3 separate regions of the Homo sapiens genome follow, and regions 1 and 2 are each linked to region 3. The links come from fine-mapping of genetic effects on gene expression. A gene starts in region 3. Each other region holds a variant in brackets. All regions are shown on one strand. Distances are between the middles of the regions. Region 1 has its middle 39 kb from the start of HSBP1. Region 2 holds the start of CEDORA (CDH13 antisense oligodendrocyte and neuron associated lncRNA). Region 3 holds the start of HSBP1 (heat shock factor binding protein 1).

What was found. PIP is the estimated chance that this variant, and not a neighbour inherited with it, causes the effect. A credible set is the group of variants that fine-mapping cannot tell apart.
Region 1: its variant is the best candidate, but not a certain one, in a credible set for the expression of HSBP1 in whole blood (TOPMed, PIP 0.51).
Region 2: its variant is the best candidate, but not a certain one, in a credible set for the expression of HSBP1 in whole blood (TOPMed, PIP 0.83).

What each region holds. Positions count from the first base shown.
Region 1 is chr16:83,844,304-83,849,483 of GRCh38, forward strand. No RefSeq gene overlaps it. Among named protein-coding and RNA genes, the nearest start is that of HSBP1, 39 kb to the left of the region's middle. RefSeq lists enhancers at 1,989-2,490, 2,491-2,990. The variant G/A (reference allele first, on the strand shown) is at 3,123.
Region 2 is chr16:83,768,965-83,774,178 of GRCh38, forward strand. All of the region lies in intron 11 of CDH13 (cadherin 13), which reads left to right. CEDORA (CDH13 antisense oligodendrocyte and neuron associated lncRNA) reads right to left here and starts at 3,985. Exons shown (of 4, transcript NR_188499.1): 1 at 3,845-3,985. RefSeq lists an enhancer at 509-648. The variant C/T (reference allele first, on the strand shown) is at 2,496.
Region 3 is chr16:83,804,665-83,809,878 of GRCh38, forward strand. HSBP1 (heat shock factor binding protein 1) reads left to right here and starts at 3,314. Exons shown (of 4, transcript NM_001537.4): 1 at 3,314-3,457; 2 at 4,016-4,082; 3 at 4,641-4,761. The coding sequence starts at 3,413. The coding sequence ends at 4,759. RefSeq lists an enhancer at 3,108-3,609 and silencers at 3,267-3,443, 3,461-3,750.

The sequences.
Region 1 (5,180 bases), 40 kb after region 3:
GGTGACTTTTCTTTAATGAGTTGTTTTATGCTGGTTGGTAAAATTTTATGAAGGACTTCTGCATCTATCATTACAAGTGCTATTGGTCTGTAATATTTTTGAGAAATGGGATTTTTCATGGTTCTAGGATACTCCATTTTAATAGGGTACCATAATCATCTAAGTTTCTGGGATTGAATACTAGAGAAGGGATTGCCTTAATTGTCTGTCTCTCTCTCTCTCCCTTTCACTCTCGTGTGTGAGTGCACGCGCATACACACACAAATGGGATCAAAAAATACATATATTTAAGACATAGATATATAGTGGGATTCAGATTTCTGTACCTGACCACCCACTTCCTCATATTCTGTAGAATTCATCTGGTCTCTCCCAAGGCCCCGTCTCAGGGATCATGGAACAAACTGCCTTTTGTCCCAGCTGCTGAATCAGGTCACACACAGCTGGCCGCTGGCCGTGCTCAGCCTCTCTCAGTTCCGTCTCTGCTTGCCCACCCCTCCCTGAGATGCGGTCTGGGTGTTTGGGAGACCAGGGGCCCCCATGGTACCCCTGACAGCAGAGGGAAGCACTTCTCAGGTCCAGGCGGTGACCATGATGCGGTGCCGAGAGCCCCGTGGGCCTCCATCGTGTGAACTGGGGGCTGGGGTAAGCTCCCGAGATGGGTTTGTTTGGGACCCAAGAGACCCCATGGCTGCCTCAGTCTCACCTCAGCCCTCTCCAAACTGAAGTCTCTTGTGAGTCTCCACCACGTCCTCCATTTGCTTCCCTGTCCCAGACCAGCCTATACCCAGCCTCTGCCTAAGGGTCACCTTGACCCTTTCTACCTGGGAACCAAGAGGAGACCAGTGAAGCCAGGATCAGGTACGCCGAGTAATCCCTGCCTCCTTCAGAGAAGTGTCCTCCCCTGTCCCCGAGCCCGGTGCCCAGACACTTCTGCCTGTGGCTTCCAGTTGAGTTTGGCCAATGGTCAGCACCAGCTGAAGGCAAAAAGGAGGGAGAACAGGGCCTTCGGTTCTGTCCTCATTTTCTGATTCCCCCACTGTTGGGTCCTCTCCCCAGGGCCCAGCACCTATCGGGAGCCTGTCTGCCCAGCACCACCCGCCACTCTCAGGCCTGGGAGCAGCAGTGGCTCCTGCCTTTGCTGGCCCTAGGCCCTGTGGCCCCCTGCAGCCTTCTCTTGCTCTGCCCACGCACGGTCAAGTTCCCAGTTGGTATGAGCCATCGGTTTCCTGCCAGGGGCCTGCTGGATATGCGAGGCCTCCCCTCCTAGTCTCACTCCATTACTGACTTCTCCCTGATGCTGAAGCGGTGTCCTTGTCTGGGGTAATCCCTGAGTATCCTTGCCTCATGCCAAGAAAATTAAGGACATGGACACACACAAGGAGGTTCAGGCCGGGCATGGTAGCTCACAGCTGTAATCCCAGCACTTTGGGAGGCCGAGGCAGGCGGATCACTTGAGGTCAGGAGTTTGAGACCAGCCTGGCCAACATGGTGAAACCCCAACTCTACTAAAAATACAAAAATTTGCCAGGTGTGGTGGTGCACACCTGTAATCCCAGCTACTCGGGAGGCTGAGGCACAAGAATCACTTGAACCCAGGAGGCGGAGGTTGCAGTGAGCCGAGATGGCACCGCTGCACTCCACCCTGGGCGACAGAGCGAGACTCTGTCTCAACAACAACAACAACAACAAAGAGTGGAGGTTTAATAGGCAAAAGAAAGAGAAAGGAGAACAGCTCTCTCCCTTGCAAAAGAGAAGGGCACCAGAATGGGACTTCTGGCCTGCAGCAGAATGCAGCAGATTTTATAGACAGGCTTGAGGAGGGGGTGTCTGATTTACAGAGGGCCCACAGATTGGTTGGACCAGGTGTGATGTTTACACAGCATTTGGGGAAGCTGCCCATCCCACTCTAATCTTATTAAGCAAATTGGCTTTCCACTTGGTGGGTGCCATATTGTCTGCTCCTTACTGTACACTTGGCTGGCAAAGGGAAGGGAAGACGGAGCCGCCATGTTGGACATGCGTAGACCCAGGTAACCCCTTTCCTACTGGCACAGCTACCGGCATGCACCATGCCAGGTTCTAGCCTGCCTTTCTATGTGTGCAGCTCGATTTTATAAGCTGCTGTTTGTTAGAAAAGAAATGATTTGGGGGCTGCTGCTTTTAATTAAAAGAAAAACCTTACTAAGGACATCCTTACCCTTCCTTAGTATCTGCCTAAATAATTTTTTTTTTTTTTTTTTTTTTTGGTGGAATCTCACTCTGTCACCCAGGCTGGAATGCAGTGGCATGATCTCAACTCACTGCAACTTCCACCTCCCCAGTTCAAGCAATTCTCCTGCCTCTGCCTCCCGAATAGCTGGGATTACATGTGCCCGCCACCACACCCGGCTAATTTTTGTATTTTTAGTAGAGACAGGGTTTCACTACGTTGACCGGGCTGGTCTCGAACTCCTGACCTCAAGTGATCCGCCCACCTCCGCCTCCCAAAATTCTGGGATTATGGGTGTGAGCCACCGTGCCCAGCCAATAATTTCTTCTTAAATTCCGTATCAGTGCAGTCAGGATAGCAGAGAACTAAACAGGAACCAGAAAAGAAGCCCTCCCCCTCAGGCTCCCTCCCAACTCCCTACCAGGGGTCTTCTCCAAGAGACCTAGCAAGACCCACACATCCACTCTTCCCCTCTGCTCCCTCCAGGTCTGTTCACCCCACAAACTTTGGGAGCCATGAGCAGAGGGCTTCCCCAGGCTGCAGTTAATCTATGAGCATCTTGGTGCAATTTAGAAACAGGCACCTCCTTCCTCAGGACACTTTACTTCTATCTGGAAGAAAAATTGCTCTATTTATTTTGTATCTAGAAAACTGTCAGGACAAATCTATAAATCTACAGTGTCTCTGCCATGAATGAAAGGTGCCCCTTACATGAGATCCTTGCACAGTGTGCAACCTGTATGCCCGGGCCCTGCCTTCCTGGCTTTTCTTTGTCTAATATGTTTGTGTTCCTCCCAGCTCTACTCTCATGACTGAGAACTAAGCATTTCTGCATCTTGGGAGGATCTCTAAGGTCAAGTGGTGAAAAACAACATCTTACTAGAGAGATCAAGTACCCACTCTGTCCCAA[G/A]GGTGACACCTTCCCGGTTTAGCCTGAGGAGGTAGACTGCTTCATGGAGGACCTGTTAAAAAGGGGAAGTTAAAATGTCGCAACTTAAATATTGGCAAATATATTTTGTCTTTTACATATGCTAGAGACTTTACTCATCTCAATCCTCACGTGCTTCATTTCGTTTTACAGATGTAGAAATTGAGCTACCCCATGGCTCAGCAGCTCCTCCTAATGTACCTTGTGAAATGCTATAGGGTGAGGCTCTTCCCACCTCCAAATCCACTAACTGCTCAGTAAATGGGAAAACAAGAATTCAGAGAGCACAGGGGATCTGTCTATTAGGACTCATTGTCCTCCACCCTGCTTTTTTTTTTTTTTTTTAATGTGGCCCTGTGGCATTTTTGGCCATCTGCATGTCTGGGCTTGCGAGAGATTGGATGCCAGTTTTCACTTAAGGAAAATTTTTACACTGTAGTCAAAAGCCATTTAAGAAATAAACGCTGGGAAGATGATAATGGAAGTGCTGGTAACCTTTAATGACGGTGGCGCTTGCAAAACGTAGAGTTCAGGAAGGGCTGATGCTTGATCCAAAAAGCTCTTGTTAAAATCCAATCTTCTTCCGCAATGAGCATTAGCAGGAAATGCTTGCAATGAACAAAAACACAGGAAAGGTTAATGGCCTCCTTTGCTATAACGATTCAGGGTTTTATCTCACGTTCCAGCTCATCCTCGGATCATGCATACGTTGAAGGGTCTTTTTTTTTTTTCTTTTTGGTAATCAGGAGAAAAATTGATTACCAAAATTATAATTAAGAGCTGGGAAAATATGCAACAATTTGGCTGCTTCATTTAGCACATATTTCAGGTTAATTGCATGATTTTACTAATGAAGATATTTGCATGAATATTTTCAGTGGCTACATTCAATTTATCATGCAATGAATACTCTGCTGAGCAGATGAGTTTCCTTTTTGTTGGACTTAGAACATAGGCCACAACCCTCAGTGAGATGTGCAAGGAGACCGTTCTAGGCTTATGTGTCAGCCTCTCACTTAGTAATCTGGTGTACCTCCCTGGTAGAATTTACACTATCCACTGTACAACCAGATCCTTTCCTAATTTTGAAAAAGACTGGAAGTTTCCAAAGAAAGTGGAAAAACAACCTTTATTACCCCTTTAAAAAAAAAAAAAAGTTTGTTAAAGGCCAGGCCCAGTGGCTCACGCCAGTAATCCCAGCATTTTGGGAGGCTGAGGCAGAAGGCTAACTTGAGCCCAGGAGTTCAAAACCAGCCAAAAATGGGTAATGTAGACCCTATTTCAAAGAAAAGATAACCACTGTTAAGGTTTATGGACATTCTATTTAAGTATTTCTTCTTTGGTAAGAAATTTCTTGTTTCTTACCAAAATGAATTATACTATACATACGGTTTTGTATTTAATCTCCCTTTTTACTGAACAATATAAATTGTGAACACTCTCTTAATTAGTAAACATTTTTCTATCATTGTGTAAATGTACAAAGTGTTTCATTGTGTGGAAGGGTCACCATTTATTTAAGTGATCCCCTTTTATTGGACCTTTAGGTTGAACTCAATTGTTCACTATTATAAGTAGCAGACAGTGAACATTCGTGAAGCTCTTTGAACACATCTAGAATTATTTCCTAAAGGTACATTTGTAGAGACTAAATGATTGGAAAGCCCTGATAGAGACTGCCAAATCTGACCCCCTAGGAAGATACACATTTGAAATCCCACCAGCAGGTTGGGATAAGGCTTGTTTCCCTGCAGTCTCACCAACATTGGGGACCAACGCCATCCTTTCAAATGAGACCTAAAAACTGATCTCTTTGTTGACTTCGTTTGCATTTCTTTAGTTCCTACTGGAACGAGTGACTATTTATGGGCCATTTATGGTTCTTTGTAAACTGCTAGCTCAAGTGTTTTGCCCATTTTTTAAAAGTGGGGTTAATTTTGTTTTTGCTGCTTTGTAATTTTTTGGGGGGTCTTAAGAATATGGCCATTAAACTGCTATATATGGTACAAATATTTTTCCATTAATTGTAATATTTTTGTA
Region 2 (5,214 bases), 36 kb before region 3:
ATTTTACCCAGCTCCTATTCAAGATGGAGTTGCTCTGGTTCAAACACCTTGACCACAGGGTCACAGAACGAGAAGATGGGAGGGAACCTCAAAGCCATTTCCCCAAGGAAGTTGAGGCTTGGGTTTTTGAGGGCTTTGGAGTGGGCAGAAGTGTGGAGATCAAGAGTACAGGGTGAAGTCATAGGAAGGGGAGAGGAAGCAGCTGTGTTCTCATGCTGATCCTGTTCCCCTGTGGGAGACTTCCAACTGGTGGCTGGAATTCTGGGGAGGTGTGTCTGAAAAACATCTTAAGTGTCTATAGGAACAATGGGGATGCAAATCAATTCTTAAACAGTCTTCTGGCCTTAATGTCAGAGATCCTATCTAGGGGAACGGTGGGGAAGCAAATGTCAGGATCTAGTGCTACTGTAACTGAGGAACTGGTTAGCCACTCACTGCAGCAGAGTCCAATTAACAAGATCCAGGCCTGGTACAAGAAAAGTGAATTTATTTTTGAAGCTAGCTTGGAAAGACACAAAGTGTCCTGCTTTAAGTGTGCTGCTTCATCTTTGGAGCAAAAAGCAGACATGTTTATAAGGTTAAAGGGGAAGTGAGCAAGGGCAGGAAGTCCCCCTGCTAGCCTGGTGTCTTATCTACCAAACAGCTGAGTTGGCATACAGTTGAGTTGGTGCCTTCCTGGGCAGAAATAAGTTGTAAAAGTGGCCAAGTGGGCGTGTTTTCACCATGTCCTCCTGAGGCCACCCCAGAAGTGGGAGTTCCGTGGAGATGTGCTTTGATCTGCAAATTGACTGTCAATTCTGGAGAAGAGATCACTGGGGCACGTAGATGACCTTGCCTTGTAGGGAATGTGTGGTGAGGGGGAGGTGAGAGGTTATTTTGCATTTCAAAAAGGGCTAGGTAGGAAGCAGGCTGAAAGGGGAAAGGAGAAGAGAAGAGAAAAAAGTAATTAAACCACCTCAGAAAAATCAGGGTACTTGGTTACGGTACATGACCTACTGCAACAAGGAACTGGGCCAGGGTGCAGCCTGATTAACGCTGAATTATAACTGTATTTGTACCCAGAACCTGGCATGCAATTCCCGTCAACCCTGTGGGGATGGTTTCAAAACCTGACCCTGTTTCTCATTGCATCCACACCCACAGCGTCAAAGCAATGCCAGGAGAACCACGCGTGGCTCATGTTTCTTGGAGGAGTCCTGGTTCAGTTCTACAGGCTTCCCACACAAAGCAATATACTGTTGGCCATGTAGGTAAGAAAAGCACAGGAAACTGTTTTTTACCCTTTCTACCAGTGTTTAGTACCAACCACAAGCACCAAAATACTCAAACTTCGAGCTCTGTGGCTCTGGCTCTTATGGACGGGGAAGTGCTTTACAATTGCCAGGCATTCCATTCACTTTATAGAATAGCCAGAAAGCTCCAGGGATGGGGATGCCCTGCCAGGGGGCCACAGCTCTTAAACAGGTGACATGCTTGTGACTGGAAAGAGGTCCCGATCCAGACTCCAAGAGAGAGTTCTTAGATCTCACGCAAGAAAGAATTCAGTGCGAGTCCATTAAGTGAAAGCAAGTATATTAGGAATGTAAAGGAATAAAAGAATGGCTACTCCCCGTAGACAGAGCAGCCCCAAAGGCTGCTGGTTGCCCATTTTTGAGGTTATTTATTGATGATATGCTAAACAAGGGGTGGATTATTCATGCCTCCCCTTTTTAGATCATAGAGAGTAACCTCCTGATGTTGCCATGGCATTTGTAAACTGTCATGGTGCTGGTGGGAGTGCAGTAGTGAGGACCACGAGAGGTCACCCTTGTCACCATGTTGATTTTGGTGGGTTTTGGCCAGCTTCTGTACTGCAACCTGTTTTATCAGAAAGGTCTTTATGTCCTGTATCTTATGCTGACCTCCTATCTCATCCTGTGACTTAGAATGCCTTAACCACCTGGGAAGGCAGCCCAGTAGATCTCTGCCTCATTTTACCCAGCACCTATTCAAGATGGAGTTGCTCTGATTTCAATGCCTCTGACACACTAATGTTAGAGCACCTTGGACATTTTCCTTAATCTGAGTGTCTAGTTTTCTTTTCTAGAAAATGAGAAAAAACTAGAATGTAGACCCCCATGTGCTCAAAGCAACAGCCTGCCTGGTTTGCTTGGACTTTTCCTAGACTGTATGATAACAGGTGCTCGATTCCTCTACGTAAATCTTCACCTTTTATTAATCATATTACCCTGCTTCTCTTAGAAAACGCACAGTTCTGCCCTCCCTACACCAAGATCACAAAAGGCTAAGTGTAAGTCATGAGCCAACCAGACCAAGAGTAACCCAGGCAGGCCAGGTGGCCAACTTGGCCATCTCATAGGCAGTTATCACTGCTCAACTTGAAGAAATACAAGGTTAATTATTGGAGTTTGAAATCCAGCAGTGGAATCCATGTGGTCCTATCGTGGTCATATAATGTGCTGAGGCTCTTACAAGTTGTCAGTGCTGAGTGGGAA[C/T]GACAAAGCCAGAAACAAGGGCAAGCAGAGGTTGAATGCCAGGAAGACCGTGGCAGGGTGCCAAGTCCATGAAGCAAAAGCACCGCCATGGTCTAAAAGGCATAGTCCTCTAGAGCAACAGAGCCAGTAACTCAGATCCAAAGGAAAGAAAATGATAACCCTTTCCCCCTCAAGACTTGCCATTGTATGGCAGCAGGAGGGCTGCTTGCAAAATAAATAACCCACCAACATTTGTAGGTTGGAGATCTCTCAGTCAAGAGTGACAGGCTGTCACTGAAAATGGGTCGGAAGGAAAACTGTCATTCCTACTAAGCAATTTTAAATAGGCTTTGTTTCCAGATATCTGTGCCTACAAGTCCTCATTTCCTCATTTGGAAATGGGATTTGATATGGTTGTATTAGGAGGTAAAATTAAAAATATCTCCTTACATCCCATTCACACTGCTGCATGATGGAATTGCCAACCTTGTAACCAAAACACATGTCTTTCTAATAAGAAGTCAATGACACAAGAGAAAAGAGATTCCTGCAGCTAAGGTTTGCTCCTGGTATTTTCCCCATGATATCACCCAACACAATGTACACTCTGTGGGTGGAGAAGGATGGGGGGTGACTTTTTAGCTTGTATACTTATTTGAGAACCTTAAATGAGATGCCTATTAAACTATCCATGTATACAAATAGACTCAATATTAAGAAAAGAAGTAGTATAAGACTGAAAGACATGCTTAAGAGAAAGGAGGGAGCCATACTTCAGGAATGGAGAAATGAAGAAAAATCTATACTGGCTAAAGTCAGGTTAGCTAGGAGGGAACATATGAGGAAGGCCCAAGTCTTATGCTGCTAGAAGCCAGGGCAGAGGCAGTAGGCTGGAAAGGACCAGTGGTCATCTTGGAAATATGTGCTCCACTTGAAGCCATTTGGATAAAAAATAAGAATTCTTAGAACACTGGACATCCCAGAAACACGATAAATTAGCAGACCAAATGCCAGTCTGCAACTGCTGGTTAAAAAGAAAAATCCAATTACTTATAACACTGAATATAGGTCAGCAGAAACTCCCGGCATCAAAGAAACTCTGACCATAAAGACTTAGTGTATATTTTTACAAAACACTTCACAGGGCCTTGTGGATCAATCATGGATTCAATTTTGTTCTACAAATTAAAATCAAGCCATGTTTAAAGCAATCTCATTAAGTCGCTTGCCAACGGGTGCACACAGTACCACACTCCTGGTGTGACATGACCATTCTTATCATTCATTTTTGGAACCCTCCTTTCATGGATACACCACCCCTCACCTCACTTCCCTGCTTCTGCCTTACCTGTGCTTTCCCTGTGGCTTACCTGGATTATCACAACCAGATCCCCTGCAGTTTTCAGCCTTGCCAACATCTGAACATGTCAAAGAAAAATGGGCAGGACAGAGTTTGAAAGGCAAAGCCTTTATTCAAGGCTACAATAAGGGAGAGAGATTGAACTAACTCTGCTGAAACAAACAATGGGACGATTTTTAAGAGCTGGGATGAGCTAATGGAAAAGTACTGGAAGATGTTTGTGGGGAGGTTGGTCCATGTGATTAGGCATCTGTGTTTGCTAATGGGTGTTTACTGGAGTTAGGCTCCAACCCTTCCACAGAGACTGAGAGACAGAGACACTATTCCTTTCCATGATTACATTTCAAAGAGATGTCAGGTCCTTGAGAAAAGTGGTCCTGGGTTGCAAAACTAGCAACAGGTTGGAAGATTTACATCTCACAGGGACAGAGAAAGAATTTACAATTGCAAGTTTCTAAAGTAAATGCTTCAAGAAAAGAGAAGTCAAGGCCTATATTAGTCCATTCTCATACTACTGTATAGCTACTACTCGATACTGGGTAATTTATAAAGGAAAGAGGTTTAATTGGCTCATAGTTCCACATGGCTGGGGAGGCCTCAGGAAACTTACAATCATGGTGGAAGGCAAATGGGAAGCAAGGACCTTCTTCACATGGTGTCAGGAGAGAGAAGTGCTAGCAGGTTAAATGCCAGACACTTATAAAACCATCCGATCTCATGAGAACTCACTCACTATCAAGAGAACAGCATGGGGGAAACCACCCCCATGATCCAATCATCTCCCTCCCTCAATATGTGGGGATTACAATTGGAGATGAGATTTGGGTGGAGACACAAAGCCAAACCATATCAGGGCTCTAGAGTCTGAAAGAAGCCCATCTAAAGTGTAGTCCAGCACAGGGGAAGGTTATGGCCCTCTTGGTCAAGCCTATCTATCCTTAGGAGGTAAGGAAGTTCTTCTAGCCTTGCCTCAAACCCAGGGTGAGCATTAGTATATGGTGATTCTCCTGGTGGCTGAGCCACAGGCTCCAACACTGTTCCCCAGTCATGAGGCTCTAAACCACTACCCCACAGAGGCCCATTTCTATAATAAGGTCCTGCTCCCAAGCTTCCTCCTTTCTCTCCATCCTTATCCCTCCCCCTTCCCTGCCTGGCATGGTCTTGTAGCTGGAAGACGAGGCCTCAGCTCTGGGGTCTCATTTCTGCTTCACAAACCTCCATCAGCACAGACTGTCCCCATGTGGAGCCCAGCCCCCTGCTGTTATCTCTGAAAAAGATCTACTCAACTCTATAATCATTTTCGGCTACTGAGCTATTCGTCCTACAGAAATAGTAAATGCTATTTTACTGTGCATGGCCGGTGATACCAGCAAGCCTAGG
Region 3 (5,214 bases):
GGCCCCGCTAGGATCATTCCATCGCTGCTCACACAAGGCAAACGCACAAAGCACCTCATTGCATGTGGTCACATGGACAGACCAACACCTTCCATAGTGTATTTTATTATTACTGTTTTTTGAGACAGAGTCACAATCTGTTGCCCAGGATGGAGTGCAGGGGATAGATCTCGGCTCACTGCAACCTCTGCCTCCCCAGGTCAAGCGATTCTCCTGGCTCAGCCTCCTGAATAGTTGGGATTACAGGTGCACGCCACCTAGCCCAGCTAATTTTTGTATTTTTAGTAGAGATGGGGTTTCGCCACACTGGCGAGGCTGGTCTTGAACTCCTGGTCTCAAGTGATCTGCCTGCCTCAGCCTCCCAAAGTGCTGGGATTACAGGCATGAGCCACCATGCCCAGCCACCTATCATAGTACAGATCCAAGAAAGGAGGCATGTCAAAAGAATGGCCCAGAGAACCAAAAAGCAATTATAAAAGTACCATAATAAGCGCACGTAAAACAAAACTGTCTTGAATGGAAAAAGGGAGTTACAACATGCAATTAATCTAGGAAGAGCTTTAAAAAAAAAATGCCAAGAGGAGGTAAGACAACTATGACACTTAAATAAAGGTTAAAAATGAGAGTTGTTCAAAACCGAAGTTTAAAGGTTAATTACTGGTGCCTTACACGTAATACATTAGTTTTGTTAATGGGACAATATTCAGTTAGGTTCGGTGTGTCAGCCCCACAAGGTGAGTATGTCAGCCATGAGTATAAATTAGTGAAGCTTCCGTGAAAAGCAGCCCTTTAACAGACCTTGGTCTCCACACAGAGAAAGCATACTGCCTGTCTGTTTAAGTGCAAAAAATAAAGGAACAAATAATGCCTCCACTAAAAGAGTATCAAGTTTGTTTGTTGTTCATGTAAAGCAAATTTCCAATTGGAATTTGAAAAAAAAAAACCACAAGTGTCTTACCAGAAAAGGAAAGAAAAACTCCAGATTCTCGTGCTAATTCATGTTCCTGAGTTGCCCACAGCCATAAGACAGGTTTGCTCAGAGATCCAGGGTGCAGGCACCCAGCTTTCTTTGCTGAGTGTGGGAGTCCCAGGGATTGGGGTCTAAAGTCAGAAGCCTGAGGGCTTTCTTCACCTTGGCTATTCACTAGTTTTTAAGGAGTTCTGAAGTTTTATGAAAAGTCTTTTACGATTAGCTGGGCATGGTGGTGCTCACCTGTAATCCCAGCTACTCAGGAGGCTGAGGCAGGAGAATCGCTTGAACCGGGGAGGCGGAGGTTGCAGTGAGTCGACATGGTGCCACTGCACTCCAGCCTAGGCAACACAGCAAGACTCCATCTCAAAAAAAAAAAAAAAAAAAAAAAAGTCTTTTAAGAAAACTGAGATACTGGCATCTAGTAGGTAGAAGTCAGAGATGCTGCCCAACGTCCTACAATATACAGGGTGCCCCCTCCACCACCAACAATAAAGAACGACTTGACTCAAATGCCAGTATTGCAGCTCTTGAGAAACTCTGCTCTAAGCTCAAAAAACTCAGAGAATTCTAGAATGGTGAGAAAAAAGGAGAAGATGCAGAGTCAGGAAGTCCTGCGTCTCTTACTTCCTTAATTTGATGACCTTGTTCCAGTTTCTTAACGCCTCTGCATCTGTTTTCTCAAAAATGTAAAATTATGATAATTATATCACAGGGTCTTCTGAGGATTAACTTAAAACACTGAGATATTTTTATTTCAAGTAGTCGGGTAAAGCACTAGCCAAATACCAGTTGACAACAGCCAATTACAAAAAAGTTGTGTATACTTACACAGAAAGGAAGATCTCTCTATAGGAAAGGATGAGGTGTGAAGGGTGAGGGGCAAAGGTGTGAGTGAGGGGGAAGGGGTGGTAAAGGGAGTTGAAGTCTCATGCCTCAAGGCCAACTGGATTCCGGGTTTGTTAGAGACACTGGTGGGTCTGGCAGAGGCGTTTGAACAAGAGCAACTCCATCTCGAATAGGAGCTGGGTAAACTGAGGCTGAGAACTACTGGGCTGCATTCCCAGACAGTTAAAGGATTCTAAGTCACAGGATGGGATAGGAGGTCAGCACAAGGTACAGGTCATAAAGACCTTGCTGATAAAACAGCTTGCGGTAAAGAAGCCGGCCAAAACCCACCAAAACCAAGATGGCAATAAGAGTGAACCCTGCTTGTCTTCATTGCTACACTCCCATTACCGCTATGACAGTTTACAAATGCCATGGCAACGTCAAGAAGTTACGCTATATAGTCTAAAAAGGGGAGGCATGAATCACCCACCCCTGGTTTAGCATATAATCAAGAAATAACTATAAAAATGAGCAACCAGCAGCCCTCAGGGCTCTGTCTATGGAGTAACCATTCTTTTATTCCTTCATTTTCTTAAACTTGCTTTCACTTTACAGACTCGCCCTGAATTCTTTCTTGCATGAGATCCAAGAACCCCCTCTCTTGGGGTCTGGATCAGGACCCTTTCCCGTAACAGCTCTAACACCTTACAGCCTCTCCCTAGCTAAAGTCAAACTGGAGCTGACCCCTCACATAGCACAGTCCTTAAATGAGATGTGTGAAAGTTTCCAGAACATGCCAGGCCCGCAGTCAAGGACTCTCCTATCCCCTTGCCATGAGACCCAATCCTAAAGACCACCTGTGGGGTTGGAACTTGAGGTTCCAAATCAGCAGTGCCCACCTCCTTCAACACCCAAACCCACAGTCTAACCCTGATGCCGGAAGCCTTCCCCACTCAACAGCAGGCATTGCGTGGAGTGAAAGAAGCCAGGCATGATGGACAGCTTCCTGTCTGAATCCCCTCATATGAACCTGACGGGCACAATGAACCTACTGGGCTAAACTCCAGACGCTGGCCACCTTCATAGGGTGGAGATGACAGAACAGGACAGGAGCCATGGGGCTCCCGGGGCGGGTAGGGGTGGGTCATGTTCCTTGGCTTGGGGGCAGTTACAAGGGTACAGTGGGGCTTGTTGAAGGGCAAAAGTTCTGTAAGTTCGTCCCGACAGGCCAAAGAAACCCCAGAGCCGTCTTTCGACTGACTACAGCCTGGAAGAGAGGCCAAGACCACTCCCTGCCTCTATTGCTCCATTTCTGAGTTGGTCTCACTTTCCACCCCACTGACGGCGCGCTGCGTGAGGGGCGGGGCATAGAGGGAGGGGAGGGGCTATGCGAAAGAAGGCGGGGAGAGTGGGGTGGGGCCGCTCCTTGGAACGGAAGCGCGCGGCCTCGAGGCCCTTCCGGTGCGGGAGAAACTACTACTCCCATAATGCCCCGCGGTCCCGCGAGCTGCCAGTCTCGTCGCGAGAAGCAGCGGCCCGGGGCGACTGAGCGGACAAACGGAAGTGTAGGTTACGGTCTGAGACATCACCGCCAAGCTGGGCATCGGGGAGATGGCCGAGACTGACCCCAAGACCGTGCAGGACCTCACCTCGGTGGTAAGGGACGGCTGTGAGGGCCGGAGGCCGCGGCCTTCCCGGGCGGCGCCGGGCCAAGCCCTGCTGGACAGAGGCGCGCCCACCGCGGCCGCGCGTGGCGTCTGCCGAGGCCCCGTTTCTGGAAGCGTCTCTGGCCGAGGCTCCCGGCCACCTTGACCCCCGGGGCGCTCGGTGCGGGCCAGTCTCCCCGCGGGCGCCCCCAAGCCCGACCCCTTCCAGTAGCCCCATTCATCTGTCGCGAACGCCCTCCGGGTCCCTCCCGCCTACCTCTGACACCCTCCCCGCCCTTCAACTCCTCACACACCCCCGGGTGCCCCAGCCCGGCAGAAACAACCTAAAGACCCTGAGCTTTGAGTCGCAGCGGCCTCCCCAGCCCAGCAGTCTAATTGGACAGGTTGGAAAACGGAAGCCCAGAGAAGGAAGATCTTGCTGAAGGCCGCACAGCTGTCCAGAGGCAGAAATGGGGCTGGAACCCCGGGACCAGGGCTTGCGTCCTGATCCCAGGAAGTTGTCTCAGGATCGATGTGGACCGTGTTTGTTTGTTTCGGTTTTTCTTAGGTGCAGACACTCCTGCAGCAGATGCAAGATAAATTTCAGACCATGTCTGACCAGATCATTGGGAGAAATATCCTTTTTATCTGCAGTCGGCCTCCTGTGGGCCTTTGGAGCCTATTTGCCGGGCAGTGGTGGGGATAAATGAGTAGTTTTCAGGCTAGCTTCAGCCATTCACTTGTAGAATTTGAGCTTGGATTGTACTGTGTTTCTGAGAAGGACTGCGCCGAGAGCTAGGGGCAAAGCTGAGTTAGACTCCTGGCTCAAGGAGCATACGTCTACCAATCCTAATAGCTGGTGTGGTGGACCATGCACTGTGAACTAAGCGCTTTTGTGTGTGTCTTTTGATGCTCAGCATGACCTTATGAGTGGGTTGTAGTGTTATCATCTTTAGCAAATGAATAAATTGAGGTTTAGGGGTTCCATCACTAGTAAGGGTCAGGGCTGGAATCCGATGCGGGGTAGCCATGCCCCACAGTCCTGTACTCTTACCCACCAGCGTGTAACAGTGTCGAAAGAAAATTGGAAGACCAGTTTCCCTAAAGTCGTTGTGTTTAAGGCTGTAGTCTGCAGGGACGGGAGGAAAAAGGCTCAATGAGATGTTGGCACGCGTTGTCTTTAACTTCAGCACTTGATGATATGAGTAGTCGCATTGATGATCTGGAAAAGAATATCGCGGACCTCATGACACAGGCTGGGGTGGAAGAACTGGAAAGTGAAAACAAGATACCTGCCACGCAAAAGAGTTGAAGGTGAGGAAGGGGGCAATTTTTTTTTTCTTTTCTTTTCTTTTTTTTTTTTTTTTTTTTTTTGACACGGAGTTTTGCTCTTGTTGCCCAGGCTGGAGTGCAATGGCACGATCTCGGCTCCCTGCAACCTTTGCCCTCCTGGGTTCAAACGATTGTCCTGCCTCAGCCTCCCGAGTAGCTGGGATTACAGGCTTGTGCCACCACACCCAGCCAATTTTGTATTTTTAGTAGAGACGGGGTTTCTCCATGTTGGTCATGCTGGTCTCGAATTCTGACCTTGAGTGATTTGCCCGCCTCAGCCTCTCAAAGTGCTGGGATTACAGGTGTGAGCCGCCGTGCCCGGTCTTTTTTTTTATTTTGTCTTAAAAGAATAGAGAGAACCTGTAAGTATAATTTGTATGTAGTCAGACATTCTGTAGATCAGTTCCCAGCCATGATCCCAGCAAGCATCACTGT